Linked DNA regions of Homo sapiens: all the other regions are linked to region 3. The links come from fine-mapping of genetic effects on gene expression. A gene starts in region 3. Each other region holds a variant in brackets. All regions are shown on one strand. Distances are from middle to middle. Region 1 has its middle 22 kb from the start of ZNF586. Region 2 has its middle 5.6 kb from the start of ZNF587B. Region 3 holds the start of ZNF586 (zinc finger protein 586).

The links.
Region 1: its variant is fine-mapped to the expression of ZNF586 in whole blood (INTERVAL, PIP above 0.99).
Region 2: its variant is fine-mapped to the expression of ZNF586 in whole blood (TOPMed, PIP above 0.99).

The regions. Positions count from the first base shown.
Region 1 is chr19:57,787,035-57,796,625 of GRCh38, reverse strand. No RefSeq gene overlaps it. Among named protein-coding and RNA genes, the nearest start is that of ZNF586, 22 kb to the right of the region's middle. RefSeq lists a silencer at 7,084-7,230. The variant C/T (reference allele first, on the strand shown) is at 6,048.
Region 2 is chr19:57,819,102-57,830,289 of GRCh38, reverse strand. It overlaps the pseudogene FKBP1AP1. Among named protein-coding and RNA genes, the nearest start is that of ZNF587B, 5.6 kb to the left of the region's middle. RefSeq lists enhancers at 7,625-8,125, 10,381-10,610. The variant A/G (reference allele first, on the strand shown) is at 5,878.
Region 3 is chr19:57,764,526-57,774,759 of GRCh38, reverse strand. It overlaps ZNF586 (zinc finger protein 586), which reads right to left and starts at 5,084. Exons shown (of 3, transcript NM_017652.4): 1 at 4,882-5,084. The coding sequence starts at 4,917. RefSeq lists enhancers at 4,850-5,099, 4,821-5,360.

The sequences.
Region 1 (9,591 bases), 22 kb before region 3:
AGGAACCAATAGGTGCAAAGGCTTGGAGGTGCATCTGAGCCATGAACATTTCAGAACCTGGTAACCATGTTGTGTCATGATCACATAAGTCCAGAAGTTTAAGACAGGCTTGGGCAACATAGTGAGACCCCGTCTCTCAAAAAAAAAAAAAGGCCCTAGTAAAAACTGAAGATGAGCCAGAGTCACACCTGTATTGGTTGTCTTAGGGGTTGTGCCTTCAATCTGAGTGTCCTGGGATGTATGGAGATTTGTGAACAGAAGAGGGTCATGTCCTTGGTAGAACTTTAAAAGTTTACAAAAGCCTCTCAGAGAACAGACTGGAATAAGGATGATGAGGACAATGAGGCACTGAGAAGTGGAGTCTTCTTTCTAGGCCATAGGTGGTAAGAAGGAGCACTGAGGATTGAAATCAGTTAATTAGTTAGCCCCAGGGCCCCTGGCTTTACGGTTGTGTAGGGATCAATGGAGGTTTGATCAGCTGGAGCTGGTCACAGTTGCCTTATTTTCATGGGTTCTGAACACTGAAAATGCTTATGGTGCCAACACAGGGAAAGAGAAAGTGTCCCAGTCTCTCCCTGAACCTGACACTACCTGTGTGGTGTCTGAGATTATGGTGTCTTGAGTGTTCACTTGATGTTTTCCCAGTTCTTGGCGTGGAGAACCTGTGGATACACCAAGCTCAGAGTCCTGAGTACCAGCCAAGGATTAATAGAAGTGTTCTTATTTCTGGCAACCAATGGAAACAGGTGTAGAAAGCTATTTTAGGAATTCATACCATTTTGTGCAAATGCTTTGAGGTGTGACTGAGCTGGGACCTATGTACGACAGGCATCTATTCTTTCTCATAGGAACAAGAAGCCGGGTCAAGATTCAGGCCTGTAATGTGGTTGCCTGAAAAGCTGGGCATCTGTTTTGGAGATGCTGGGATGCTTGGATGGGGAAAGAGGTGGTCTAATCCAGATGTTCATAGGATCTATCTGGTTGCACACTGGAGGAGAACAGACTCCTGGATTAATGAGGAGGCAGTTAGCACGGAGGGAAGTTTACCAGCATAATTCAGATGAGTTGATGGACCAGGTGAATGCCGTGCAGATGGGAGAAAAGGAGACATTCTACCTATATTTTTAATAAAGGAACAAGTAGATCTTTGCATGTTGTAGGTGAGGGAGAGAGAGAGAAGGGTCAATGATGTGACCCCTGGTTTTTTTTTGTTTTTTTTTTTTGAGACGGAGTTTTGCTCTTGTTGCTGAGGCTGGAGTACAGTTGTGCCATCTCAGCTCACTGCAAATTCTGTCTCCCAGGTTCAGGTGATTCTCCTGCCTCAGCCTCCCGAGTAGCTGGGATTAGCCCGCCACCATGCCTGGCTAATTTTTGTATTTTTAGTAGAGATGGGGTTTCACCATGTTGGTCAGGCTGGTCTTGAACTCCTGATCTCAGGTGATCTACCCACCTCGACCTCCCAAAGTGCTAGGATTATAGGCGTGAGCCACTGGCCCAACCATATTTTATTTCTTAATGAAAACGGAAATAGGCAAAATACATTTGAGAAGAAGAAAATGAGTTGCCAGACATAGTGCTTTGAGAGGGTGAGGTGAGAGGATTGCTTGAGCCTAGGAGTTTAAGGCCAGCCTGAGCAACATAATGAGATCCTGTCTCTACAAAAAAATTTAAAAATTCGGTGGGTGTGCTGGCATGTGCCTGTAGTCCCAGTTACTCAGGAGGCTGGGGTGGGAGGACGCTTGAGCCCAGGAGGTTGAGGTTGCAGTGAGCTATGATCAAACTACTGCCCTCTTGGCTGGGTGACAGAGCAAGATCTTTTCTCTAAAAATAAATAAGAATTTAAAAAGCAAGCAAAATATATAAATAGACATTTTACTAAAGAAGGAACATCCACTTATAAAAAAGGGTAAAAATTTAAAAGACTATCCATATTCTCTGCTGGGCACGGTGGCTCACACCTGTAATCCCAGAACATTGGGAGGTTGAGGCGGGCAGATCACAATGTCAAGAGATTGAGACCATCCTAGCTAACAGGGTGAAACCCCATTTCTATTAAAAATACAAAAAATTGGCCGGGTGTGGTGGCCCACGCCTGTAATCCTAGCACTTTGGGAGGCTGAGGTAGGTGGATCACGAGATCAAGATCCTCCTGGCTAACATGGTGAAACCCTGTCTCTAATAAAAATACAAAAAAATTAGCCGGGCGTGGTGGCATGCATCTGTAGTCCCAGCTACTAGGGAGGCTGAGACAGAAGAATTGCTCAAACTCAGGAGGCGGAGGTTGCAGTGAGCCGAGATCACGCCACTGCACTCTATCCTGGGCGACAGAGAGAGGCTTTGTCTCAAAAAAAAAAAAAGACTATCCATATTCTGTATCGATAAAAACATGAAAGTGGAATTCATGGACACTGGTGACAGTAACACTAAAGGGAACAACCATATTAATTTTACAGTACACTTTGGTGTTGCCTAAAAAGCTATACATTTGCTGGATGCAGTGGCTCATGCCTATAATCCCAGCACTTTGGGAGGCTGAGGTAGGTAGATCACGAGGTCAGGAGTTCAAGACCAGCGTGGCCAAGATGGTGAAACCTCACCTCTACTAAAAATACAAAAAAATTAGCTGGGCATGGTGGCATGTGCCTGTAGTCCCAGCTACTTCGGAGGGTGAGCCAGGAAAATTGCTTGAACCCACGAGGCAGAGGTTGCAGTGAGCCGAGATTGCATCACTGCACTCCAGCCTGAGTGACAGAGCGAGACTCCATCTCAAAACAGACAAACAAACAAAAAGCTATAGATTTACCTATTCTGATTCAGTTATTGAACCCCCAGATAGTAACACATAAAAAAGAAACATATTTACATAAAGAACTGTACTAAAGTGTCTGTAGTTTTATTTATGGAAGCCAAAAATGAGAAATAGATTAATGATGTATAAACAGATGAATGAATATACAGTGATATTTCATAGCATGTCATCTCAGCAATATAAAAAGGAGTGAACTACTCAAGTATCATCACTGACAAATCTCAAAATAAATATACCGCACGATACCATCCAGGGATAAAGATTAAACACTTCACGACATCAAATCACGTATAAAAATGTAGAAAATGTAAAATAATCTATTATAAAGCAAAGTTATCAATGGTCATCTGGAAGGCAGAGGTAAAGACGTTACCAGACTCCAGGTAAATATGAAGGTGATGGATCATATTACAGGCTTATTAATGTCAAAACTTATCACACTTTACAGTTTAAATATGTGCAGTTTTGGCCAGGCACGGGGGCTCATGCCTGTAATCCCAGCACTTTGGGAGGCCGAGGCAGGCGGATCACATGGCCAGGAGATCGAGACCATCCTGGCTAACACGGTGAAACCCTGTCTCTACTAAAAATAGAAAAATTAGCCGGGCGTGGCTGTGGGCGCCTATAGTCCCAGCTACTCAGGAGGCTGAGGCAGGAGAATGGCATGAACCCAGGAGGCGGAGCTTGCAGTGAGCTGAGATTGTGCTACTGCACTCCAGCCTGGGCGACAGAGCCAGACTCTGTCTCAAATAAATAAATAAATATAAATAAAAATAAATATGTGCAGTTTTTTTGAAAGTCATTTATTTTGGCCAGGCATGGTGGCTAATGCCTGTAATCCCAGGACTTTGGGAGGCCGAGGTGGGCGGATCACCTGAGGCCAGGAGTTTGAGAACAGCCTGGCCAACATGGTGAAACCTCACCTCTACTAAAAATACAAAAAATAGCTGGGCATGGTGGCAGGTGCCTGTAATCCCAGCTACTCGGGAGGCTAAGGCAGGGGAATCGCTTGAACCTGGGAGGCAGAGGTTGCAGTGACCCAAGATCGTGCCACTGAATTCCAGCCTGGGCAACAAGAGCGAGACTCCATCTCAAAGAAAAAAAAAAGTGATTTATTTCTTATTACAGCTTTAAAAATGTAATTTTAAAAATCTGGACTTGATTTTTCCAAGAGGTTTATTAACTATTGCTGTATCATCTCCTCAACCTGAGTGAGGCAACTAGCCTTCATGGTAACAAAAACATGACGAACAATAAAGACCATTTCCAGATGATTCAGAAAGAATGACGGCTGGTCACATGATGGGCCACGTAGTGGTCTAATGGACATCCCTGCTCCCTTTCTTCTTCCTCCTGCCTATGCAGGAATGACCTTTAGGTCAATTAGACTAGAAGGACTACCACAAATAACAAAATCTTTAGGTTATTCTCTCCAGCAGTGACCTTAGCCACATAAGATTCAATTAAGAAGGTCCTGAGAATTTCTGTTTGTATTCATCCTTCACAGCCATGTCTGGATCATAGTAGAAGCCCTTTTAAAATGCAGTAATTCCGAAAAACTTATCATTTCCACTATAACCTCACAACCTGTGAAGGTACCCTCAACAGCACTGAAACATAATGCACCATCCCTTGTGAAGTAGAGAACAATTTCATGTTGCTCTCAGAAGCACCAGAGATTGTGATGAAAACTGCCACCCTTTCAGGTTGACCTATGAACCCCAAAATTATGGTATTTTTGAGATAGTTTCGCTCTTGTTGCTCATCCTGGTATGGGGTGGCATTACCTGAGCTCACTGCAGCCTCCACCTCCCAGGTTAAAGTGATTCTTGTGCCTCAGCCTCCCAAGTAGCTGGGATTATAGGCGAATGCCACGATGCCTGGCTAATTTTGTATTTTTAGTAGAGATGGGGTTTCAGCATGTTGGCCAGGCTGGTCTGGAACTCCTGACCTCAACTGACCCTTCTGCCTCGGCCTCCCAAAGTGCTGGTATCACAGGCATGAGCCACCATGCCCATCTGCAAATCCAGTGTTCAAACAATTCCACACTGTAAATACAGCTCTCAAGATTGAAGGTGTCTTAAGCAGCAGAGTCTTTATTATAATACAAACAAGGGAAATAGGCGGCAGGCAGGCTGTCTGATTTGTGACTGGCAGGCTGGAAAATTCTATCTTAAGAATGCTGTGAGGGCCGGGCACGGTGGCTCACGCCTATAATCCCAGCATTTTGGGAGGCTGAGGCAGGTGGATCACGAGGTCAGGAGATCGAGACCATCCTGGCTAACACAGTGAAACCCCATCTCTACTGAAAATACAAAAAAAAAAAAAAAAAAAAAATTAGCCGGGCGTGGTGGCGGGCACCTGTAGTCCCAGCTACTTGGGAGGCTGAGGCAGGAGAATGGTGTGAACCCGGGAGGTGGAGCTTGCAGTGAGCCGAGATTGCGCCACTGCACTCCAGTATGGGTGACAGAGCGGGACTCCATCTTAAAAAAAAAAAAAAAGAATCCTGTGAGATCCAAGAGATCCCTGAAAAAGGTAGTCCATCTTTTCAAATCACCAGAAGAGTTCTCTGCACCAAAAATTAGTCAGGTCCTTGGCCTACCTCATCAGACACAAAGAATTGAGAATGGAATGAGTACTGAGGATACTAAAAAATCCCCCTGGTGAATGAAAGAAAAAGTTACGTCTGGATCATAATGAGGTAGGGGAGTGATGAAACTGTGAGTACCTGCCAAGTGGTAAAGGTGAAATGCTTTTTGCAAGATAACTGGCAGTCACATAAGTCTGGCAAGGGACACAGGCAGGCTGAAAAATGCAATGGGGGCGGGGCGCGGCGGCTCATGCCTGTAATCCCAGCACTTTGGGAGGCCGAGGCGGGCGGATCACGAGGTCAGGAGATCGAGACCATCCTGGTGAACACGGTGAAATCCCGTCTCTACTAAAAATACAAAAAATTAGCCGGGCGTGGTGGCGGGCGCCTGTAGTCCCAGCTACTCGGGAGGCTGAGGCAGGAGAATGGCATGAACCCGGGAGGCAGAGCTTGCAGTGAGCCGAGACTGCGCCACTGCACTCCAGCCTGGGCGACAGAGCGAGACTCCGTCTCAAAAAAAGAAGTCTTAGATCTGCACAGTCACCCAGAAAGGCAGAAGACAACCAAGGTGGGATGCATTAGGGTGACTTTAAGACTCCTGACCCTAACTCTTTCCCTGGGAGCCTGCAACAAAGCAGACTGGGGCTG[C/T]TCAAGGAAAGGAGAGGGCAGTACATGTATCTCAGTACTACCAACCACAGAACTGATCCAGAGAATTGGAGAATGAAGCTGTGCCACAGTCCTGATGTGAGAAAGACGTTATTACCAAGAGGAATAAAGGGGAGGGGCAGAGACTAACTCAGGTCACAGTTAAGTATGAGTACCTTACCCAGGGAGGATATAAGTGTCAAGGTCTCCAGCATCACATCATGGTACAGGCATCCCTGAGCCTCATTAAGAAGACTCCATTCCTCCAGGGAAAAGTTTACAGCCACGTCTTCAAAGGTCACACTGCTCTGTTATGATGGGGATAGATGAAACCATAAATGGCCCCTGTGCTGAAGACCCACAATCCACTTCCCCAACATATCTACCCTTGCCCATCCTCCTTCTCCCAGGATCCCCAACTCAGAGGAGAAACTTTGCCCACTAGTGCCACTGTGTCCTCATGGGACCACTGATCATGACACATAGCCATCAGCAACAAGAGGCAGATAAACAAATAGATATCTATGCTGTGATCCTGAAATAAGGGGTTCCATCCCCTCCTTTCTAGCAATTCCCCTGGTATAGCAAAGGTCACATGAATCCCAATGCAGTGCCTAAGAACCTTCAAACATAATCCCTGTGTACCTATACATCCTTCCCATCTTTGGACACCAAAGACACATGTCAATTGCCACCAACACCTAACTCCCCCACACCATAGACCTCTCTCTGGCCTTGCCAGAAGTTAAAGTATTTTATTCCCCCTTTCTTCTACTGATAAGGGTAGGAGTCTTACCCTAGGGTTATAGTGATGGCCAAACACACAACACCTGATGCTGAACATAAGTCATCAAGAAAGTTAATTAATCAAATATGCTCACAACTTGAGAGAAGAGGACACCACTCACCACAGATAGCCACATGGGGGTTGCACTATGCATAAGAGAGAGCAACCAGGGACTGTGGTATGTAAGCTTTTCTGAATCAAGAAGGTGTGATAGCCCCTGATTCCCTTGAAAGGATGCAACTGGCTTGTTTTTAATTTTTGAGACAGGGTCTCGCTCTGTCACTCCTGCTGGAGCGTAGTGGTGCAATTACAGCTCACTGCAGCCTGAACTTTCCAGGTTTCAGGGATCCTCCTACCTCAGCCTCCCGAGTGGCTGGGACCATAGGTGTGCGACACCACACCCAGCTGTAACTGGCTTGTTTGAATTAACTCTGTGTGTAGAAATGAAATTCAAACTTGCTACAAATAAATAATAAACAGGAACTCTGCTTAGTCCTCTTGATTAAAAGGGTAGTTAGGCTAGGACACATTATACAAAAGAGCAGAGTGGGAAGGGGGATTTGTACTCAGACCATTTGAGGTAATACTAGTATCACCAGATATGAAGGTAGCACATGATATTGACCTTAAATTTAGGGCTCACACCATAATGTGGCTGACATCATCCACAGTAGTCTTGGTGAATTAAAAAGCAATCCAAAATTATCACAGAATTCCAATGGTTCCTAATAGCAGTGGTAGTACCAAGTCATTATACGAAGCCCTCCATGCATAAATCCACAGGAAAAAAGAACGTTAGTGTTTTCAGGTATTCATGGCCCTATTCCACTTCTGTGCTGCATTTGTTATCTTCAGAAATTATGACTTTCTTCTGTCCACCTAACTCCATTCAAAGCCTAGACCCATTGGCCGTCAATCTCGGGCCTAGTGACTCTCACAAGGTGACCTTATTTGCCTCCATATCCACCAGGCTGAATGAAACACCCCAGGCCCCACAAAAGTCATCTCAATATCGTGGTGTGGCCACAGAGTGGCGAATTAGCACAAGGTCCAGGCTGAGTGTCATCTTCCCTCAGCTACTCCTATGCTTCTGCTTGCATCTCATGTCTATTCATTCCTTGGAAGCCTATGTCACCTGCCAAACTAGGCTACCAGATATATTCTCCCTTCATGGCCATTTACCTCCCTCACCTGTTTTCTGAAGTACAATACCATCACCAGGTACACAAGCAGGCAACCCAACCTCCACTTCCTGTCTTCCTAGTAGTGTCACCACCATAATCTGAAGGTTGCCCCTTCCAAATGTGATCCATGACTCACTCATCTTGCTCCACACAGTGGCTACCATATATTGGATAGCTCCAATATTAACCCTTCCCCAGATATTTGCATCCATGGGTTTAGGTGCCCATTTGATAGCTCCACTAAGTATTATCTATTACATTTCAGAATCTTAACATGGCTGTGGTATTGTGAAATATATATTTGGTCATCTCCTTTCCTGGCATGGAACTCCTAAAATTCATGAAACTCTCAAATTTATAAGTGACTTTGAATGGTAATGAGTTGAATGATGGTTGGTAACCCCTAGATAACTTCAGGATGGAGACTGGTCAGGGAAAAGACTGTCAGGATTTGAGCATCTGGACTAGGGCAGTAGCTTCCAGTTTGATCTTCCTCCTCCCTCAACCCCACAGTCTGTTGTCCACTCTGTAACCAGACAGAACCTGTTAAAACACTGGTAACATCATTTAACCCCCTCCAGTTTCACTTTCTTTTTTTTTTCGCGATGGATTCTCACTTTGTTGCTCAGGCTCGAGTGCAGATTGGCACAATCTTGGCTCATTGCAGCCTCCATCTCCCAGGTTCAAGGGAGTCTTACACCTCAGCCTGCGAGTAGCTGAGATTCCAGGCACCCGCCACCATGCCCAGCTGATTTTTGTATTTTTAGTAGAGACTGGGTTTTACCATGTTGGCCAGACTGGTCTAGATCTCCTGACCTCAAGCGATCCACCCGCCTTGACCTCCCAAAGTGCTGGGATTACAGGCGAGAGCCACCACGCCCGGCCTCTCCAGTTTCACTTCTAAGCCATTTCCACATCCCAGTATCATTCCTGGGTTAATCCACCACATGTGTTTCCCACCGGTCGACAGACATGAAAACACTTCTCCATAGCCTGTGTCAGTGACTTAGGTTTGGGGTTTGAGGATTTTGCAAGATCCCCAGATCGAAGGACAGGAGAAATTGCACTTAAGAGTCCTAGGAGGCCTGGCCAGACCAGCGGCTCACGCCTGTAATCCCAGCACTTTAGGAGGCCAAGGCGGGAGGATTGCTTGAGCCCAGGAGTTTTCGACCATCTTAGGCAACATGGCAAAACCCCGTCTCTATTAAAAACACAAACATTAGCCAGTTTCTCGGGAGACTGAGATGGGAGGATCACCTGAGCCTGGGGAGGTCAAGACTATGCTGAGCCATGATCGCGTCACTGCACTCCAACCTGGGTACCAAGAGTGACACTCTGTCGCTAAATAAATAAATTCCCAGGACATTAAGATCTAGACATATAGGTGAGGATGAGGACCAGTGAGGGACTAGAGCATCCTATACTTCCTTCTGTGGGTTCCTTAAATACTTCCATAGCCATGAGAAGGTGTGCCAAAAGGCGGAGCTTTCAGGAATGTGTCCCTGCTGGGATTTGATAGACTCAGGTTTCTCTGTAAGCTTTTTTTGGCCCTGTAGCCAGGTGACCTCAGGCTGAG
Region 2 (11,188 bases), 55 kb before region 3:
GCCACCAGAGGGCGCCGGAAGTCCGGACCCATTGTCACGTGCACACAGGAAATGCCTTTATTCTGAGCCCCCATGGCTCTTCCACTCTGTCATTCCATGCGGAGTTTTCTGGGTAATGTAGTTCCCTAGGTAACAAGGAGGGTAAAGGGCACAATTCCCAGAGGCGGTTCTGCAGGAAAAGCCCAGCTCCACCTCAGGAGTATCCTTAAGATATGCGCCCTGACTGGTATGGTGGCTAGCTCCTGTAATTCCACCAGTTTGGGAGGCCAAGTCAGAAGGATCATTTGAGGCCAAGAGTTAGAGATTAGCCTGAGCAACAAAGCAAAATCCTGTTTGAAGGGGGCCTGCCCCTCCATACCTATGGGTATCTCTCATCAGGTGGAGACGAGAGACTGAGAAAAGAAATTAGACACAGAGAAAAAGTATAGAGAAAGAATAGTGGGCCCAGGGGACTGGCACATTCAGCATGTGAGGACCTTCACCGGCGCCGGTCTCTGAGTTCCCTCAGTATTTATTGATCATTATTTTTACTCTCTTGGTGAGGGGAGTGTGGCAGGGCAACAGGGTGATGGTGGGGAGAAGGTCAGCAGGGAAACACGTGAGCAAAGGAATCTGTATCATGAATAAGTTCAATGAAAGGTACTGTGCGTGGATGTGCACATAGGCCAGATTTATGTTTCACTTTAAACAAACATCTCAGTGTAGCAAAGAGCAACAGAGCAGTATTGCTGCCAGCATATCTCGCTTCTAGCCACAGGGTAGTTTTCTCCTATTTCAGAATACAACGAATGGGAATGGTTGGCTTTACACCATGACATTCCATTCCCAGGAATGAGCAGGAGACAGAAGCCTTACTCTTATCTCAACTGCAAAGAGGCCTCCCTCTTTCACTCCTCCTCCTCAGCACAGACCCTTTAAGGGTGTCCGGCTGGGGGATGTAAGGTCTTTCCTTTCCCATGAGGCCATATCTCAGGCTGTCTCAGTGGGGGAAACCTTGGACAATACCCAGGCTTTCTCAGGCAGAGGTCCCTGCAGCTTTCCGCAGTGCATTGTGTCCCTGGTTAATAGAGAATGGAGAATGGCGATGACTTTTACCAAGCATACTGCCTGCAAACATATTGTTAACAAGGCACATGCTGCACAGCCCTAAATCCATTAAACCTTGATTCAATACAGTACGTTTCTGTGAGCACAGGGTTGGGGCTAAAGTTACAGATTAACAGCATCTCAAAGCAGAACAATTTTTCTTAATACAGATCAAAATGGAGTTTCTTATGGCTTCCTTTTCTACATAGACACAGTAACAATCTGATTTCTTTTCCCCATATCCTGTCTCTGCAAAAAATAAAAAATATTAGTGGGGTGAGGTCAGGCAGGCCAGTGGTCCCAGCTGCCCCAAGGTTGGGGTTAGGGTTAGGGAGCCTGAAGGAGGGAGAATCGCTTGAGCTCAGGAGTTTGAAGCTGCGGTAAGCCGAGATCGTGCCACTGCACTCCAGCCTGGGCAACAGAGCAAGACCTCTTCTCTAAAAAATAAAAATAAGGGCTGGGTGTGGGTGGCTCACGCCTGTAATCCCAGCACTTTGGGAGGCTGAGGCGGGTGGATCACCTGAGGTCAGGAGTTCAAGTCCAGTCTGGCCAACATGGTGAAACCCCGCCTCTACTAAAAATACAAAAATTAGCTTGGCATGATGGCATATGCATATAATCCCAGCTACTCAGGAGGCTGAGGCAGGAGAATCTCCTGAACCCAGGAGTCAGAGGTTGCGGTGAGCTGAGATTGTGCCACTGCACTCTAGCCTGGGCGACAGAGCAAGACTCTGTATTGGAAAAAAATAAAATTAAATAAATAAATAAATAAAAGATTGCAGATCTTTCTACTGGGCAGAGGATCATCCTGCCTTTCCTTAAAACTCCTATTGAGATTTCTTGCAATTATTAGCTGTAGCTGATTACCCTAGTGTATGGAAAAATATTATTTCAGAGTTAGTGTAGGTGCTCCCAAAGGCTATAGATCTAAATTCACCTATCATTTCAAGTGGTCCTTTGATGCAAAATTCTTCCACTGGAAGCAGAGATTAATGCAAAGGTTAATAACCATTATTGTATTGTTAAAATGAATGTGTAAACACCCAGCGGGTTCATTTTGCCCACTGCCCAGATAGAGCCAATTTATCAGGACAGGAGAATTGTAAAAGAAAGAGTTTGATTCACACAGAGTTGGATGAACAGCAGACTGGAGTCTTATTAATATTACTCAAATCAGTCTTCCTGAAAACTTGGAGACTGGGTTTTTTTGTTGTTGTTTATTTGTTTGTTTGTTTTTTTGAGATGGAGTTTTGCTCCTGTTGCCCAGGCTGGAGTGCAAGGTCATGATCTCGGTTCACTGCAACCTCCACCTCATGAGACTGGGGTTTTTTAAGGATAATTTGGTAGATAGGGGGCCATGAAGTGGGCAGTCCTGATTGGTTGGGTTGGAGATGAAATCGTAGGTATAGCAGGACAAGCTGCAGACTAAACCCCTCAGACACCGAGTTAAAGAAGGAAGGGCTTTATTCAGCTGGGAGCTTCGGCAAGACTCACATCTCCAACAACTGAGCTCCCCAGGTGAGCAATTCTCGTACCTTTTACGGGCTCACAACTCTAAGGGGGTCTGTGTGAGAGGGTCGTGATCGATTGAGCAAGCAGGGGGTACATGACTGGGGGCTGCATGCACTGGTAATTAGAACGGAACAGAACAGGACAGGGATTTTCACAATGCTTTTCTATATAATGTTTGTAATCTGTATAACATTACTGATTAGGTCAGGGGTCGATTTTTCTTTTTTTTGATTTGAGTCTTGCTCTGTCGCCCAGGCTGGAGTGCAGTGGCATGATCTCGGCTCACTGCAAGCTCCACCTCCTGGGTTCACGCCATTCTCCTGCCTCACCCTCCCGAGTAGCTGGGACTACAGGTGCCCGCCACCACGCCCGGCTAATTTTTTGTATTTTTAGTAGAGACAGGGTTTCACCATGTTAGTCAGGATGGTCTCGATCTCCTGACCTCGTGATCCGCCCGCCTCGCCCTCCCAAAGTGCTGGGATTACAGGTGTGAGCCACCGCGCCTGGCCAAAAAAAAAAAAAAAGTCCGGGCCCAGTGGCTCACGCCTGTAACCCCAGCACTCTGGGCAGAGGTGAGGGGATCACGAGGTTAAGAGCTACAGACTATCCTGGCCAACATGGTGAAACCCCGTCTCTACTAAAAATACAAAAATTAGCTGGGCATGAATCCCAGCTACTGGGGAGGCTGAGGCAGGAGAATCGCTTGAATCCGGGAGGCAGAGGTTGCTGTGAGCCAAGATCGTGCCACTGCACTCCAGCCTGGGTGACAAAGAGAGGCTCTGTATCAAAAAATAAATAAATAAATAAATAAATAAAAGCCAAGGGTCTAGCCAGAGCTGTGGAACCGCCGCCAGGTCGCTGTTGGTCCACACCGCCCGTCGCGCTACCCGCCCACCCAGCATCGGCCGCCGCCATGGGAGTGCAGGTGGAAACCATCTCCCCAGGAGAGGAGTGCACCTTCCCGAGGCACGGCCAGACCTGCGTGGTGCACTACACCGGGATGCTTGAAGATGGAAAGAAATTTGATTCCTCCCGGGACAGAAACAAGCCCCTTAATTTTTAGCAGGAGGTGATCCGAGGCTGGGAAGAAAGGGTTGCTTAGATGAGTGTGGGTCAGACAGCCCAACTGACTATATCTCCAGATTCTGCCTACGGTGCCACTGGGCACCCAGGCATCATCCCACCACACGCCACTCTCGTCTTCGATGTGGAGCTCCTAAAACTGGAATGAAGGGAATGGCCTTCTCCCTCAGCTCCCTGTTCTTGGATCTGCCATGGAGGGATCTGGTGCCTCCAGACGCGTGCGCATGAATCCATATGAAGCTTTTCCTGAGGTTCCACTACACTCTGTATAGACATCTGCCCTGACTGAATGTGTTCTGTCACTCAGCTTTGCTTCCGACACCTTCCATTTCCTCTTCCCCCTTCTCCTTGTGTGTGTGTTTACCTAAACTATATGCCATAAACCTCAAGTTACTCATTTTATTTTGTTTTCATTTTGGGGTGAAGATTCAGTTTCAGTCTTTTGCATCTAGGTTTCCAATTAAGTACATGGTCAAGTATCAACAGCACAAGTGATAGATTCACTTTAGAATAGGAATTGGTGTTGGGGGGGTGTTGCAAGAATATTTTAATTTTTTCGATGAAATTTTTATCTATTAGATACTAAACATTCTTTCTGCTGCGCTGCAAAGTCATAGCAGATATGAGGTGCTGTTGAGGGATTAATTATTGTCCAAGTTGAGAGATGTCCTTCAGTTAAATTAAAATCCCTACCTAAAACCAAGGTGGTGATGGGGAGAGCCTTTGCTTCCACCAGTTCCCCCCCTTCCCTCGCTTTAAGCCCCTGCCTTTGAAAGTAGATCATGTTCACTGAGATGCTGGACACTGCAGGTATCTCTCCCTGGGCCAGCAGGGACCTCTGAAGCTTTGTTGCCTGGCTTATTTTTTTTTCCATCCTGTGGTTTTTCTAATGGACTTTCCGGAATTTTGTAATCTCATAACTTTCCAAGCTCCATCATTTCCTAAATCTTAAGAACTTTAACTGACAGTTTAAATTGAAGATGCTGTTTGTAGACTTCACACCCAATGAAAGCCCAGCCATTGCCGGGCACGGTGGCTCACGCCTGTAATCTCAGCACTTTGGGAAGCCAAGGTGGGTGGATCACCTGAGGTTGGGCGTTCGTGACTAGCCTGATCAACATGGAGAAACCTGGTCTCTACTAAAAATACAAAATTAGCCGGGCATGATTGTGCATGCCTGTAATCCCAGCTACTCGGGAGGCTGAGGCAGAATTGCTTGAACTGGGAGGCAGAGGTTGTGGTGGGCCGAGATCGTGCCATTGATTGCACTCCAGCCTGGGCAACAGGAGCGAAACTCCATCTCAAATTAAAAAAAAAAAAAAAAAAAAAGGAAGCCAAGCCATAAAAAGATTCCTCGAATATTCTCTGAAGAAAATGATGCTGGGGGCCGGACACACTGGCTCATGCCTGTAATCCCAGCACTTTGGGAGGCCTAGGCAGGTGGATCACCTGAGGTCAGGAGTTCAAGACCAGCCTGACCAACACGGTGAAACCCTGTCTCTACTAAAAATATTAAAAAGTAGCCAGGTGTGGTGGCAGGCACCTGTAATCCCAGCTACTCCGGAGGCTGAGGCAGGATAATCACTGGAACCCGGGAGGCGGAGGTTGCAGTGAGCTGAGACTTCACCATTGCACTCCAGATGGGGCAATGAGAGCGAAACTCCATCTCACACTTGATCTTAGCCAAAAGGTGGAGAAGCGTTGAACCAAAGCCACTGTGCCCGGGTGGGAAAGTTCTTTATAGATTTATAGTGCTTCTTTATAGATTAGTTCTTGCTAAGTGTTGAAAAGAGAATTGTAATTATCTAAAGAGGATTAATTCATCACTTAGGAAAAGCAGAGGTTAGTAAGAGGAAGTTACTTCTTTTAGAGTATGTGATTCAAAGGAAAAAATGTGATACATCAAATATACATGAACTGGCTAAACATTTCTAGGTACATATCGATTTATAAGCCACTGTAAGATTCAACACAATGAGGAAATTACTGGTGTAATAAAAATAACTGAGAGAGTGAAGGGGTGGCCTGCCCCTCCACACCTGTGGGCATTTCTCATCAGGTGGGATGAGAGGCTGAGAAAAGAAATAAGAGACAGAGACAAAGTATAGAGAAAGAAAAGTGGGCCCAGGGGACCGGGGCTCAGTATACGGAGGAACCCTGATGGCACTGGTCTCTGAGTTCCCTCGGTATTTATTG[A/G]TCATTATCTCTACCATCTCGGAGAGGGGGATGTGGCAGGACAACAGGGTAATAGAGGCAAGAGGGTCAGCAGGAAAACCTGTGAACAAATGTCTCTGCATCATAAACAAGGTAAAGAAAAAAGTGCTGTGCTTTTGATGTGCAGATACATAAACATCTCAATGCATTAAAGAGCAGTATTGCCTCCAGCATGTCTCACCTCCAGCCCTAAGGCGGTTTTCTCCTATCTCAGTAGATGGAATATACAATTGGGTTTTACACTGAGACATTCTGTTGCCCAGGGATGAGCAGGAGACAGGTGCCTTCCCTTATCTCAACTGCAAAGAGGCCTTCCTCTTTCACTAATCCTCCTCAGCACAGACCCTTTACAGGTGTCAGGCTGGGGGAACAGTAAGATCTTTCCTTTCCCATGAGGCCACATCTCAGGCTGTCTCAGTTGGGGGAGACCTTGGACAATACCCAGGCTTTCTCAGGCAGAGGTCCCTGCGGCCTTCCGCAGTGCATTGTGTCCCTGGGTACCCGAGACTGGAGAATGGCGATGACTTTTACCAAGCATACTGCCTGCAAACACATGTTTACAAAGGCACATCCTGCACAGCCCTAACTCCATTAAACCTTGAGTCAATACAGCACATTTCTGTGAGCACAGGGTTGGGGCTAGGGTTACAGATTAACAGCATCTCAAGGCAGAATAATTTTTCTTAGTACAGGTCAAAATGGAGTTTCTTATGTCTTCCTTTTTCTACATAGACACAGTAACAGTCTGATCTCTCTTTCTTTCCCCCAGAGGAACCCTGCCTCATTGCCTTGATAAAAAGGGTTGTTAGGCTAGGATACATTATTCAAGAGAGCAGAGTGGGAATGAGATGAGATTTGTGCTCACACCTTTTAAGGTTGTCCCACTATCACAAGATGTCAAAGTGACACATCATATTGGGCCTTCAATTCTGGCCTTATACCAAAATGTGGATAAACATCCAGACTATGCTTGACAAATACAAATAGCATCCAATATTAACACAGAATTTCCATGGTTTACAATAGCAGTGGTAATCCCAAATCATCCTGTGAATGTCTCCCGGAATGACTCCATAGCCACACAGAACCACATATGGCTTTAGATATCCATGGCCCTATTCCACTTCTGTGCTGCACCAGCTGAGACCTCAGCTGTAGCAACCCTCCTCTGTCCACCTAATGCCGTTTAAAGCCCAGCCCCTGGATTTGTGAACCAAACCACATCTACTATCACAGATGAGCATATTTTTCACTGCCCATATGCACCAGGCTGAATGAAACTCCCCAGGCACTCCCAAAGTCATCTCAAAACGTTTGTGAGTCCAGACAGTGATAAATAGTTACAACTTTGGCACCAACTCAGGCCTAAGTGTCATCTTCCCTGAATTACTCCTATGCTTCTGCATGCATCTATCTCGTCTATTCTCTCCTCGGATGTCTATGTCCCCTTCCAAACTCTACTGTCTGATACATCCTGCCATGATGGTCACTCACACCCTCTCAGGTGTTTAGGAAGCCCAATAACATCACTCAGGGACGTAAGTAAGAGATCCACTCCTCAGCCTGTAGTCACACCTTCCTGGCCCCTGAAAAGATTTACCACCAAAATCTGAAGCATGTCCTCCTAAATGGACCCATAACTAACTTACTGTAGTTCGCTCATTAGCTTTCATATATTGGATGTCTCCATTATCAACACCCTCCCAGATATCCCATCCTGTATGTCTAGTTATCCATTTGATGCCACCACTTATTGGTCTCTGATTCTTCATATGGCCAAAACAACCCTCTTGCTATCCACAGTGAATATTGTTGTCAATACCAACTTCATGTCAGCAGATGCAGCGTCCATGGTTACAGCTGCAAAGATCAAAAACCTTGGGCTCATGCCCAATTCCTCTTTCATGCTCTTATCACCCACATTAGAAAACCTAGCTGTCGGCCGGGCACGGTGGCTCACACCTGTAATCCCAGCACTTTGGGAGGCTGAGGCGTGCGGATCACCTGAGGTCGGGAGTTCAAGACCAGCCTAACCAACATGGAGAAACCCCATCTCTACTAAAAATACAAAATTAGCCAGGGTGGTGGTGCATGCCTGTAATCCCAGCTACTGGGGAGGCTGAGGCAGGAGAATCACTTGAACCTGGGTGACGGAAGTTGCGGTGAGCTGAGATCACGCCATTGCACTCCAGCCTGGGCAACAAAAGCAAACTCCGTCTCAAAAAAAAAAAAAAAAGAGAGAGAGAGAAAACCTAGCTGTCTGCCAGGTACGGTGTCTCATGCCTGTAATCCCAGCACTTTGGGAGGCCGAGGCAGGTGAATCACCTGAGGTCAGGAGTTCGAGACCAGCCTGGCCGACATGGTGAAACCTCGTCTCTACTAAAAATACAAAAATTAGCCAAGTGTGGTGGTTCATGCCTGGAATCCCAACTGCTCGGAAGGCTGAGGCAAGAGAATCACTTGAACCCGGGAGGCGGAGGTTCCAGTGAGCAGAGATCATGCCATTGCACTCCAGCCTGGGTGACAAGACCGAAACTGCGTCTCAAAAAAAAAGAAAGAAAGAAAGAAAGAAAACCTAGCTGTCTTTTTACAAAAAGTGAATCCTGAATCCAGACCCATGTGATTTACCACATATCTGATCCATTAAGCCTCACCTAGATTATGGCAGGAGCCTTATCTCTGACCTTTCTTCCTCTTCCCTCAACCCACAGTCTATGCAACAAGGTCCAACCAGATGAAGCCTGTAGCCAGGTAGAACTGTGGTAATATCACCTCCTGACTTTGATCCGTTTTATCTCTAAGCATTTCACAACCTGGTAGCAAATCCTGGGTTAATCTTACAAGGGTGTTTACATTGGTTGACAGAAATGGGAATACCTCCATATAACCTGTCATGGACTTGGTATCCTGGCTTCAGAGATTCTCCAGGGTCCTCGGATCAAAGGACTGAAAAAAATGGCACTTAAGAGTCCCAGGACACCACAAGCTAGAGAACCTGTAGATGGCGTCAGGACCAATGAGGGGATTGAACACCCTCCACTTTCCTGTGTGGGTTCCCTAAGTGCTTCTGCAGCCAGGAGTGCCTGAGGGGAGAGGCAGACATTACAAACATGTCACGGGATTTGATAAGCTCAGGCCTCCCTGAACCCTTTCTTGTCCCTGGAGCCAGGTGGCACTCAGGCTGGTTGTCTGACCTGCTTGTCTCAGTGCAAAATGTCATCTCTACCACCTATGTGAGCTACAAAAAGGATTCAACCTCCCAAGGCCCCAAAGTCCTCATCCTCTCTCTCTACAATGTTCTTCCTTTGATTGGCCTTTGGGAAATCTTAAAAGCCTGGATTTGGATCATGTCCCTCCTTTCTTCAAAACTCTCCATGGCTTCTAGTGTCCTCATGATGAATGCACAGCCCTCAGCCTGTGTGCTCTTCCAGGAGTAGCTCTGCCTCAAACTTTGTTCCCGACAGGTGCCTGTGGACCCCAGGTTCCATCCTCCCAGCTGCCTCCATCTCCAGACCATCGCCTAGGCCCCTCCCTGTGCCTGTTGCTCTCCCCACCGCATCGCACTGATGTCAAACACAGGTGAAACCGTCTTTGCAAAATTATAACTGAGGAAATTATGACAGTGAAAGAAATCAGACCTAACCGACTCCATCTTGCTTTTAACCTTTAAGCTGTCCTTGTTCATTCCTGGGCACAGGCTGAATTAACTTAGGGAAGGAATTCAGTTCATGGTTTCACTCTGAAACAAAATTGATAACAGCCCTTTCCTGAAAAGACTCCCTTCTTGCCTGGGGACCAGCCTGCCTTTGCAGGACTAACAGTTTAGCTATAAGATTAGAAATTACCGTTTAGGGGTCATGTAGCTTCTGGCTCCAAGAGTCTGAACCTCGCCAAGTTGCTCCTGAAGATAACATAACAATTGTAAAAGCTAAGATCAGTGCTTGAGGTATTTTGGAGATCCTACACTGGATGGATCAGCTGACAACACACAGACCGGTAATCTGGGTCAATCAGTTCTGCCATCCCACCCACAACAGAAAACAGCATGAAAAACTCACTTCAACCCTCTATAAATCCATCTCCAACCTGACCGTTCAGCACTCCCCACTTCCCAAGCCCCTACCCGCCAAATTAACTTTGAAAACTCTGATCCAGAAATGCTCGGGGAGACTGATTTGAATAATAATAAAACTCCTGTCTCCCGAACAGCCGGCTCTGCGTGAATTACTATTTCTCCTTACAATTCCCCTGTCTTCACAAATCGGCTCTCTCTAGGCAGCTGGCAAGGTGAATCCACTGGACGTTTACACAGGGACCCCTCCTGCCAGCGCCTCAGTGTCCCTACGCCGGGTACCGGCTACAGACCCGTGAGCAGGAGCCTCTCCCTCGCTGGTTTAGGACCTGGGTGACGATGAGGTGACCTGAGGGCACAGAAAACGCCACAATTACCTGAGTAGGGCGCCTCGGCGCAGCCGCAGCCATCGGACTACTTGGGGAAAGCACTGCCCGGGAGCAGCAGGCGCCCTCACCGGGCTGCAGAGCCGCCTCTGTGCACCGAGAACGGTTCCTCTCCACCTTCTGGGTTCATTCACCGCAGTCCCACGTAGCAGTCCGGGGCCACTCACTGGGCAAACACGCGTATCGCAGATCAACGTGGCCGCTACAAGAGGACCCCGGAAGTCTCGGCCCTACATTAGGCGCACACACGGAAATGCTTCTTTCCGAGCCCTCATTGGCTCTGACGGCATTCATTCAACGCAGAGCTTTCTGAGTAATGTAGTTGACCAGGTTTCAAGGCTGTAAAGAGGGCGCTACCCAGAGGTGCATCTGCAGGAAAAGCCCACCGTCATGTCAGGAACTCTCCTTAAAAGCGCGCCCTGAGGCCGGGCGCGGTGGCTCACGCCAGTAATCCCAGCACTTTTGGAGGCTGAGGCGGGCGGATCGCGAGGTCAGGAGATCGAGACCATCCTGGCTAACACGGTGAAACCCCGTGTCTACTAAAAATTCAAAAAAAAAAAGTTAGCTGGGCGTGGTGGCGGGCGCCTATAGTCACAGCTACTCTGGAGGCTGAGGCTGGAGGAGAATGGCGTGAACCTCCTTGCAGTGAGCTGGGATCGCGCCACTGCCCTCCAGCCTGCGCGACAGAGCAAGACTCTGTCTCAAAAAAAAAAAAAAAAAAAAAAAAAAGGCGCCTTTCTAGGGCAGAGGAGGGGTCTCACCTAGCCTTAGAAGCCGTATTGAGATTCCTGGAGACTAGTGTCTGTAACTAATCACTCAAGAATTTGGAAAAATA
Region 3 (10,234 bases):
AAATTAAAAAGGAATCCAAAATTACCACAGAATTCCAATGTTTCTCAATAGCAATGGTAGCCCCAAATCATTCTGACGCCCTCCATGCATAAATCCACAGACAAAAAGAACCACTAGCATTTTCAGATATTTATGGTTCTATTCCACTTCTGTGCTGCATTTGCTATCCTCAGAAACTATGACTTTTTATTTATTTATTTATTTATTTATTTATTTATTTATTTATTTATATTTTTGAGATGGAGTTTCACTCTTGTTGCCCAGGCTGGAGTGCAATGGCGCGATCTCAGCTCACCGCAACCTCCACCTCCCAGGTTCAAGTGATTCTCCTGCCTCAGCCTCCCGAGTAGCTGGGATTAGAGGCATTAGCCACCACGCCTGGCTAATTTTATATTTTTTAGTAGAGACGGGGTTTCTCCATGTTGGTCAGGCTGGTCTCCAACTCCCGACCTCAAGTGATCCGCCCACCTCAGCCTCCGAAAGTGCTGGGATTACAGGTGTGAGCCACCGCGCCCGGCTGACTTTTTTTTTTTTTTTTTTTTTGAGACGGAGTTTCACTCTTGTCACCCAGGCTAGAGTGCAATGACACAATCTCGGTTCACTGCAACCTCTGCCTCCCAGGTTCAAGCGATTCTCCTGTCTCAGCCCCCGAATATCTGGGATTACAGGTGCCTGCCACCACGTCAGCTACTTTTTTTGTATTTTTAGTAGAGATGGGCTTTCATCATGTTGGCGACGCTGATCTCGAACCCCCGGCCTCACGTGATCTGCCCACCTTGGCCTCCCACAGTGCTGGGATCACAGGTGTGAGCCACTATGCCCGGCAACTATGACTTTCTTCTGTCCACCTAACCCCATTCAAAGCCCAGAACCACTGGTCATCAATCTCATGCATAGTGACTCTCACAAGGTGACCATATTTGCCTCCACATCCACCAGGCTGAATCAAACACCCCAGGCCACACTAAAGTCATCTCAAAATCTTGGTGAGGCCACAAAGTGGCCAATAAACACAAGCTCCAGCCTGAGTGTCATCTTCCCTCAGCTACTCCTATGCGTCAGCATGCATCTCAAGTCTATTCATTTCTTGGAAGCATTATGTCACTTGCCAAACTAGTCTGTCAGATGTATCCTCCCTTTCCAGCCTAGCCAAGATGGTGAAACCCTGTCTGTACTAAAAATACAAAAATTAGCCAGGCATGGTGGCAGGCACCTATAATCCCAGCTACTCGGGAGGCTGAGGCAGAAGAATCACTTGAACCCAGGAGGCGGAGGTTGCAGTGAGCCGAGATTGCACCACGGCACTCTAGTCTGGGCGACAAAGCAAAACTCTGTCTCAAAAAAAAAAAAAAAAAAAGAAGAAGAAGAAACAGATGTATCCTCCCTTCATGGCCATTTACCTCCCTTACCTGTGTTTCTCAAATCCAATACCATCACCAGGTACACAAGCAGGAAACCCAAACTCTACTTCCTGTCCAACAGTGTCATCAACATAATCTGAAGGTTGTGCCTTCCAAATGTGAGCCATGACTCAATCATTTCAGTCCACACAGTAGTTACCATATATTAGATACCTCCAATATCAACGCTTCCCCAGATATTTGCATCTATGTGTCCAGCTGCCCATTTAATAGCTCCACTAAGTAGTATCTAATACATTTCAGAATCTTAATATGGGTGTGATATTGTGAAATATATATTTGGTCATCTCCTTTTCTGGCATGCAACTCCTAAAATTCATGAAATTCTCAAATTTATAAGTGACTTTGAATGGCAATGAGTTGACTGATGGTTGGAAACCCCTAGATAACTTCAGAATGGAGACCGGTCAGGGAAAAGAGACTATGTCAGGATTCGAGGTCTGGAAATTTCAGCCCCATACCCCAATCTCCAGAAAGGGGAGAGGGGGCCAAAAGTTAAGCTGATCAGCATTGACCAATGATTTAATTAATCATGCCTATGTAATAAAGCCTCCATAAAACCCCATAAAGACAGGGTCTGGGGAGCTTCCAAATAGCCAAACACATGGAAGTTCCTGGATGGTGGTGTGCCTGAAGATCATAAAAGCTCTGGGTCGCTTCCCCTTATGCATCTCTTCATCTGTAACCTTTGTAATAAATACTCTTTAAAATAAACTGGCAAATTAAAGCATCTCCTGAGGTTCTGTGACTGGCTCTAGCAATTTAATGGAAGCCGAGGAAGGGGTCATGGGAACCTGATTTTTATCAAGTCAGTCAAAGGACAGGTAAAAAAAAAAAAACATCCTGGGGCTTGTGATTGGCATCGAAAGGGGTTGGCGGACAGTCCCGTGGGACTGAGACTTCACCCTGTGGGATCTGATGTCCACTGCAGAACTACTTGGTGTATGAGGAAAACCATCCACACATTATCTAGTCACAGAAGTACTCTGTGTTGATTGTTGTGGGGGAGAGCAGAGCAAAAGCAATTTGTATTTTTTTCCACGCAGAATGGCCAAAACAAACCTCCTGATAGCCTCAGTGAATATTACACCTGCTATCAACTTGCTCATCTCAGTTGATGCAGCTCCCATTGCTACAGCTGCTAAGATAAAAAACCCAGGGGTGTTTCCTGAATCCTCTCAAGCTCTCACTGTTCACATTTAAAAATTGAGTTGCCAGGCTGGGCACGGTGGCTCAAGCCTGTAATCCCAGCACTTTGGGAGGCCAAGGCGGGTGGATCACGAGGTCAGGAGTTCGAGGCAGCCTGGATAATATGGCGAAACCTAGTCTCTACTAAAAATACAAAAATTAGCTGGGTGTGGAGGCGCGCGCCTGTAATCCCAGCTACTTCGGAGGCTGAGGCAGGAGAATCGCTTGAACTCAGGAGGCGGAGGTTGCAGTGAGCCAAGATTCCACTATTGCACTCCAGCCTGGGCAACAGGTCCAGACTCCATCTTGGGAAAAAAAAAATTGACTTGCCCCTCTAAAAAACACAAATCCAGATCTAGCCACATTGCCTAAGCCACAACTCTAGTCCATTAATCCTCACCTCGACTAGGGCAGTAGCTTCCAGTTTGATCTTCCTCCTCCCTCAACCCCACAGTCTGTTGCCCACTCAGTAACCAGACAGCGCCTATTAAGAAATTGGTAACATCACCTCACCCCTCTAGTTTCACTTCTAAGTAAGTATTTGCACACCCCAGTATCAGTTCCTGGGTGAACCCTCCACATGTGTTACATTAGTTGACAGACATAGCAACAACTCCCCATAACCTATGTCACTGATGTAGGTTTGGGGTTTGAGGTTTTTCCAAGATCCCCAGATTGAAGGACCGGAGAAATGGCACTTAAGTGTCCTAGGAGGTGCGGTAGTTCCTGCTTGGCATCCCAGCACTTTGGGAAGCCGAAGCAAGAGGACTGCTTGAGCCCAAGGGTTCGAGACTAGCCTGGGCAACATGGCGAAACCCCATCTCTCTCTCTCTCTTTTTTTTTTTTTTTTCAGACGGAGTCTTTCTCTGTCGCCCAGGCTGGAGTGCAGTGGCGCGATCTCGGCTCACTGCAACCTCTGCCTCCCGGGTTCAAGCGATTCTCCTGCCTCAGCCTCCCAAGTAGTTGGGACTACAGGTGTGTGCCACCAGGCCTGGCTAATTTTTTGTATTTTTAGTAGAGGGGGGATTTCACCGTGTTAGCCAGGATGGTCTCAAACTCCTGACCTCGTGATCCGCCCGCCTCGGCCTCCCAAAGTGCTAGGATTACAGGCGTGAGCCACCGCGCCCGGCCGTGAAACCCCACCTCTACTAAAAATACAAAAAGCCAGTTACTCGGGAGACTGAGATGAGAGGCTCTCCTGAGCCCGGAGAGGTCGAGGCCGTGCTGCGCCGTGATCGCGTCACCGCAACCCAGCCTGGGTGTTGAGTGAGAACCCGTCGCCGAAAAAAAAAAAAGATGCCAAGATCTAGACATGTGGGATAGGATGAGGACCAGTGAAGGACTAGAGCATCCCCTACTTCCTACTGTGGATTCTGTAAGTGCTTCTGTAGCCATGAGGTGTGCCAAAAGGCAGGGCTTTCACAAATGTGTCTGTGCTCGGATTTGATAGACTCAGGCTTCTCTGTAAGCTTTTTTTGGCCCTGCAGCCAGATGACTTCAGACTGAGTCTCTAATCTTGTGGCCCAGTGCTCAATGTCACCTCTCAATGATTCAACCTCTCAATGTCCTCATCACTGCCTTCAACTCTGTTCTTCCTTCGAACATCTTTTGGGAATCGCAACTCTAACACAGATTTCCTCCTTTGTTCAAAACTGTCCATGGCTTTTAGCGTCCTCACAGTCAAAGTTCAACCCTCAGCCTGGTACTGAAGAAACAACTCCGCCTCGGCCAGGCGCGGTGGCTCACGCCTGTATTCCCAGCACTTTGGGAGGCCGAGGTGGGCGGATCACCTAAGGTCAGGAGTTCGAGGCCAGCCTAGCCAACATGGTGAAACCCCGTGGTGGCGCATGCCTGTAATCCCAGCTACTCGGGAGGCTGAGGCAGGAGAATCGCTTGAACCGGGGAGGTGGAGCTTGCAGTGAGCCGAGATCGCGCCACTGCACTCCAGCCTGGGCGACAGAGTGAGACTCCGTCTCAAAAAAAAAAAAAAAAAGAAATAACTCCGTATCACACTTCTTTCCCAGTAGACACACGATGTCCCCGTGTTCCGCATCCTCCTGCCTCAGTCGCGCCTGCAGGCCTTTGCCCTCCGCCAGTCTCGCTCTGCCGACCGCATCAACTGGGTGTCGGAAACAGGGATCCCACCCGCCGGCGCCTCTCCGTCCCTGACAGAGGCCTGGGCTGCAGGGACGCGAGGAGGCGGCCCTCACGATCAGGGGCCTCAGGGTCTGGGTGGGTAGGGTGGGTAAGGCCCGGAGGTCGCAGCGCTCACCTGAGCAGGCGCCCTCAGAGCGGCTGCTGCCGCCATGACTCTGGGCGGGGGGGGAACGCGGGCTCGGCGGTGTTCCTGTCGTTGTCCTGTCCCGGGTCGCGACCAGCGGCGTCGCCGAACCTCAGATCCGCCTGTGTGCAATGGCCACAACCACTCCTCCCGAGCTCGTCCAGACCCAGCATCGCCGGATGGACCTGACAGGCCAAAATGGCTGCCACGGCTAGGACGCCGGAAGTCCTGGCTTGACTTTACGTGCCCCGGCAATGGCACGGCTTCTCTGAAGCTTCATTGGCTCAGCCACGTTACCATTTCGCAGGGCGGATTCTGGGTAATGTAGTTCCCAGACATGGGCAGCGCTTAAGGTGGCTTTCTTCCGACTTTCCGAAGAAAGGGGCAAGCTCCACTGCGAGGGGCGCTAGGAAATGGCGACTCCAGGTCCAGATGCGGAGGAGGGTCTCCCATCTTAGAAGAGGCCATACGCACATTTCTGGGGGTACTGTGTGCAACTGATTGCCCGCGTGTTTGGAGACTTCTTATTTCAGAATTTGTGATGCTCGGCTTCTTCCTTTTTTTTTTTTTTTTGTCTTTTTTTTAAGACATAGTTCTCTCTGTCACTCAGGCTGGGGTGCAGTGGTGTGATCTTGGCTCACTGCAGCCTATGCCTCCCGGGTTCAAGCGATTCTCGTGCCTCAACCATCCGAGTAGCTGGGATTACAGGCGTGTGCCACCATACCCTGCTAATTTTTGTATTTTTAGTAGAGACGGGGTTTCCTCATTTTGGCCAGGCTGGTCTCGAACTTCTGGCCTCAAGTGATCTGCCTGCAATGGTCTACCGAAGTGCTAGGATTACAGGCGTGAACCACCGTTCTCAGCCCATTAGCAACACTTTTATTTATATCTTTAACCTACAGATTCCTCTAGAAATCTGATATCAACATCAAAAAGCTAATGAGACAAATGCTATTATGTTACAGGACAATGGCTGCGGTGTTCAAACATGGAGTATGTATGCATGAGAGAAGAGAGAGACCCTCTCACATTGTTTTATATTCAGTAAAAACAACAAGGAAGTAAAACCAAAGACAGGCAACCCCGCGCCAGGCCCGAAACCAGGCCTAGGCCCGCCTGGCCTAAACCCAGTAGTTAAAAATCAACTTATGATTTAGAAGCCGATGTTATTCATAGATTCCTTAGATTGTATAGAAGAACATTGTGAAACTCCCTGCCCTGTTCTGTTCCTCCCTGACCACCGGTGCATGCAGCCCCTGTCACATACCCCTTGCTTGCTCAAATCAATCACGACCCTTTCATGTGAAATCTTTAGTGTTGTGAGCCCTTAAAAGGGACAGAAATTGTGCACTCCGGGAGCTCAGATTTTGAGACAGTAGCTGGCCAATGCTCCCAGCTGAATAAAGCCCTTCCTTCTGCAACTCGGTGTCTGAGAGGTTTTGTCTGCGGCTCGTCCTGCTACATGCACAGGGTGCTTTTACACTGAGATATTTCAAGTGCCTTAAATCCATGCGTTCACCTCTTTGCTGGCAAGTGCTTATCATTGTCAGTGGCATTGGAATCAGAGTGACTCCATCTTGAAAATGGGCTGGATAAAGTAAGGCTGAGAAATACTCGGCTGCATTCCCAGGTTAGGCATTCTTAGTCACAGGATGAGATAGGAGGTTGGCACAAGATGCAGGTCACAAAGACCCTGCTGATAAAACAGGATGCAGTAAAGAAGCTGGCTAAAACGCACCAAAACCAAGATGGTGATGAAAGTGACCTGTGGTCATCCTCACTGCTCATTATACGCTAATTATAATGCATTAGCATACTAACTCCCGCCAGCGCCATGACAGTATACCAATGCCCTGGCAATGTTTGGAAGTTACCCTATATAGTCTAAAAAGGGGAGGGAACCTCAGTTCTGGGAAATCTCCACCTCTTTTTTTTTTTTTTTTTTTGAGATGGAGTCTCGCTCTGTCACCCAGGCTGGAGTGCATTGCTGCGATCTCGGCTCACTGCAACCTCCGCCTCTTGGCCAAGTTCAAGTGATTTTCCTGTCTCAGCCCCCCGAGCAGCTGGGATTATAGGCGCCTGCCACCGCGCCCAACCTGTAAAATTTTCTATACTTAAAAAAAAAGTTGGCTGGGCGCGGTGGCTCACACCTGTAATCCCAGCACTTTGGGAGGCCGAGGCGGGCGGATCACGAGGTCAGGAGATCGAGACCATCCTGGCTAATATGATGAAACCCCGTCTCTACTAAAAATACAAAAAAATTAGCTGGGCGTGGTGGCAGGCGCCTGTAGTCCCAGCTACTCCGGAGCCTGAGGCAGGAGAATGGCTTGAACCCGGGAGGCGGAGGTTGCAGTGAGCCGAGATCACGCCACTGCACTCCAGGCTGGGGGACAGAGCGAGACTCCGTCTCAAACAAACAAACAAACAAACAAACAAAAAAGTTGGCCGGGTGCGGTGGCTCATGCCTGTAATCCCAGGACTTTGGGAGGCAGAGGTGGGCGGATCACGAGGTCAGGAATTCGAGACCAGCCTCACCAACATAGTGAAACCCCGTCTCTACTGAAAATAGAAAAATTAGCTGGGTGTGGTGGCGCATGCCTGTAATCCCAGCTACTCAGGAGGCTGAGGCAGGAGAATCACTTGAACCCAGGAGGCGGAGGCTGCAGTGAGCCAAGATCGCGCCACTGCACTCCAGCCGGGGTGACAGAGGACAGAGTGAGGCTCCGTTTCAAAAAAAAAAAAAAAAAAAAGCTTTCTTGGATTATGCTTTGTATAAATTAAATTGGATATTTAGTGTAAACTTTATTCAGTAATGGAGGTGAGGGTTTCCAGTAGTATTTCTTTCCCCAAACAATCATTTTCTCAGATTTCCCGTGAGTTGGCTCATAAACATGTTGTACCATAAGAAATTGAAATCTCAAAGGCAAGATGGGTCTCCTGTTGGGTCCACACCAAAATTTGTAAATGGGGGAAAAGCATTACCGCTTTGTTAGCCATATCTACTTTTTCTTATCTGAAGCCTCTTTTTGAATCCCTTGGAGTTCCTGTTCAATGGCACTTATTTTGAATGTAGTGACTTTTATAGTTTCATGTGATATTGGTGTCAAGAGAGTCTTTTTGCTGCTGCATCTGCGAAATAATTTTTTTTTACTCTTTGGAGAGGTGAGTTTGAATGTTCAGGAACGTTAATAAAACATTCTTTTTTGATAATCGGATGGCTTCTAAATGATCAGAAACTTGAGAGCCATGTTTAATTAGATATCTGGGGGAGGTTAAGTAACCTCACTGGCCAGGCACAGTGGCTCATGCCTGTAATCCTAGCACTTTGGGGGACAGTGGGGGGGTGGGGGGTGGGGGGGCGGATCATGAGGTCAGGAGTTCGAGACCAGCCTGACCAACATGGTGAAAACCTGTCTCTACTAAAAATACAAAAATTGGCCAGGCATGGTGGCTCATGCCTTTAATCCCAGCACTTTGGGAGGCCGAGGTGGGCAGATCATGAGGTCGGGAGATAGAGACCACGGTGAAACCCCGTCTGTACTAAAAATACAAAAAATTAGCTGGGCGCCGTGGCGGGTGCCTGTAGTCCCAGCTACTCGGGAGGCTGAGGCAGGAGAATGGCGTGAACCCGGGAGGCGGAGCTTGCAGTGAGCCGAGTTTGCGCCACTGCACTCCAGCCAGAGCGAGACTCCATCTAAAAAATAAATAAATAAATAAATTAGCCGGGGGTGGTGGCGAGCGCCTGTAATCCCAGCTACTCGGGAGGCTGAGGCAGGAGAATTGCTTGAACCCGGGAGGAGGAGGTTGCAGTGAGCCAAGATTGCACCACTACACTCCAGCCTGGGCAACAGAGCAAGCCTCTGTATCAAAAAAAAAAAGCCTGATTCCATAACATCCCAAGGTCATGAGCTACACCAATAGCATAATACCTTTAAGTATAAATATTATCCATTTGATTTTTGGCCAGTTGACAAACTGGTGAGTGCTGTTAATTCAGCTAGCTGTGCTGATTTTACTTGAGGCAAGTGATGGCTTTTTTTTTTTTTTGCTTTTTTTTTTGAGACAGAGTCTCCCTCTGTTGCCCAGGCTGGAGTGCAGTGGCGCAGTCTAGGCTCACTGCAACCTCTGCCTCCCAGGTTCAAGCGATTCTCCTGCCTCAGCCTCCCAAGTAACTGGGACTACAGGCGCCTGCCACCACACCCGGCTAATGTTTGTATTTTTAGTAGAGACGGGGTTTCACCATATTGGCCAGGCTGGTCTTGAACTCCTGAACTTGTGATCCGCCCGCCTCAGCCTCCCAAAGTGCTGGGATTACAGGCATGAGCCACCGCACCCGGTGGGATTGCTCTTTCTGATGTCCACAAGAGACACAAGGTTGTAGCCTGCTCAGTATTTTCAAAATGTATCCTTTAGATCCGATCCATCTGTGAACCAGATAATATCAACATTTTTACATGATGTGTCCTATAAATCCTGTCTGGACACCAATTCTGTGAGTAGAATACAGTGATGAAATATTTCATCTGTTGTTTCAGGAAGTTGCACTGCAGGATTAAGAGTATTACAGATAGAGAGGGCAGCATATGAAGCAGACAGTGTAAGTTTGTCATAAGAAACCAATCTATTAATGGAAAATTGCTGTGTATTATGTGAATTCAAAAGAGCTTCTATAGAATGAGGAGCCTCCATTACAATTTTCTGAGTAATCGTAAGGAGCATGGCAGTGGCAAAAATGGCCCTCAGACAAAGAGGTCACCCATGTACTACATGGTCTAATTGCTGACTATAATAACCAATAGCCCTACATTGTCCTCCAGGTTTTTCAATTAGAACACCCAGGGAACTGCCATGCCTTACATGAACAAAAAATCGCAAAAAACAAAGAAAGGAAAAACAGCAGCTAATAATTTGCATGGGCCAAAGCGGGGGCTTGTAAGATTTTTCTTTATTTATTATTTGTCCTTCTGATGTCCAGTGTATGAGGTTAGGCTGATCTTTCTACAATGCATATAAAGTCTGTGGCATTAGAGAAAAATTGGACATCCAGCTATGACAGTAGTCAGCCAAGCCTAAAATCCTGTTGTCTTTTTTTTGTTTGTTTGTTTATTAGATGGAGTTTCGCTCTTGTTGCCCAGGGTGGAGTGTAATGCTGCGACCTCGGCTCACTGAAACCTCTGCCTCCTAGGTTCAAACAATTCTCCTGCCTCGGCCTCCCGAGTAGGTGGGATTACAGGCATGCACCACCACACCTGGCTAATTTTGTATTTTTAGTAGAGACGGAGTTTCTTCATGTTGGTCAGGCTGGTCTCGAACTCCTGACCTCAGGTGATCCATCCACCTCAGC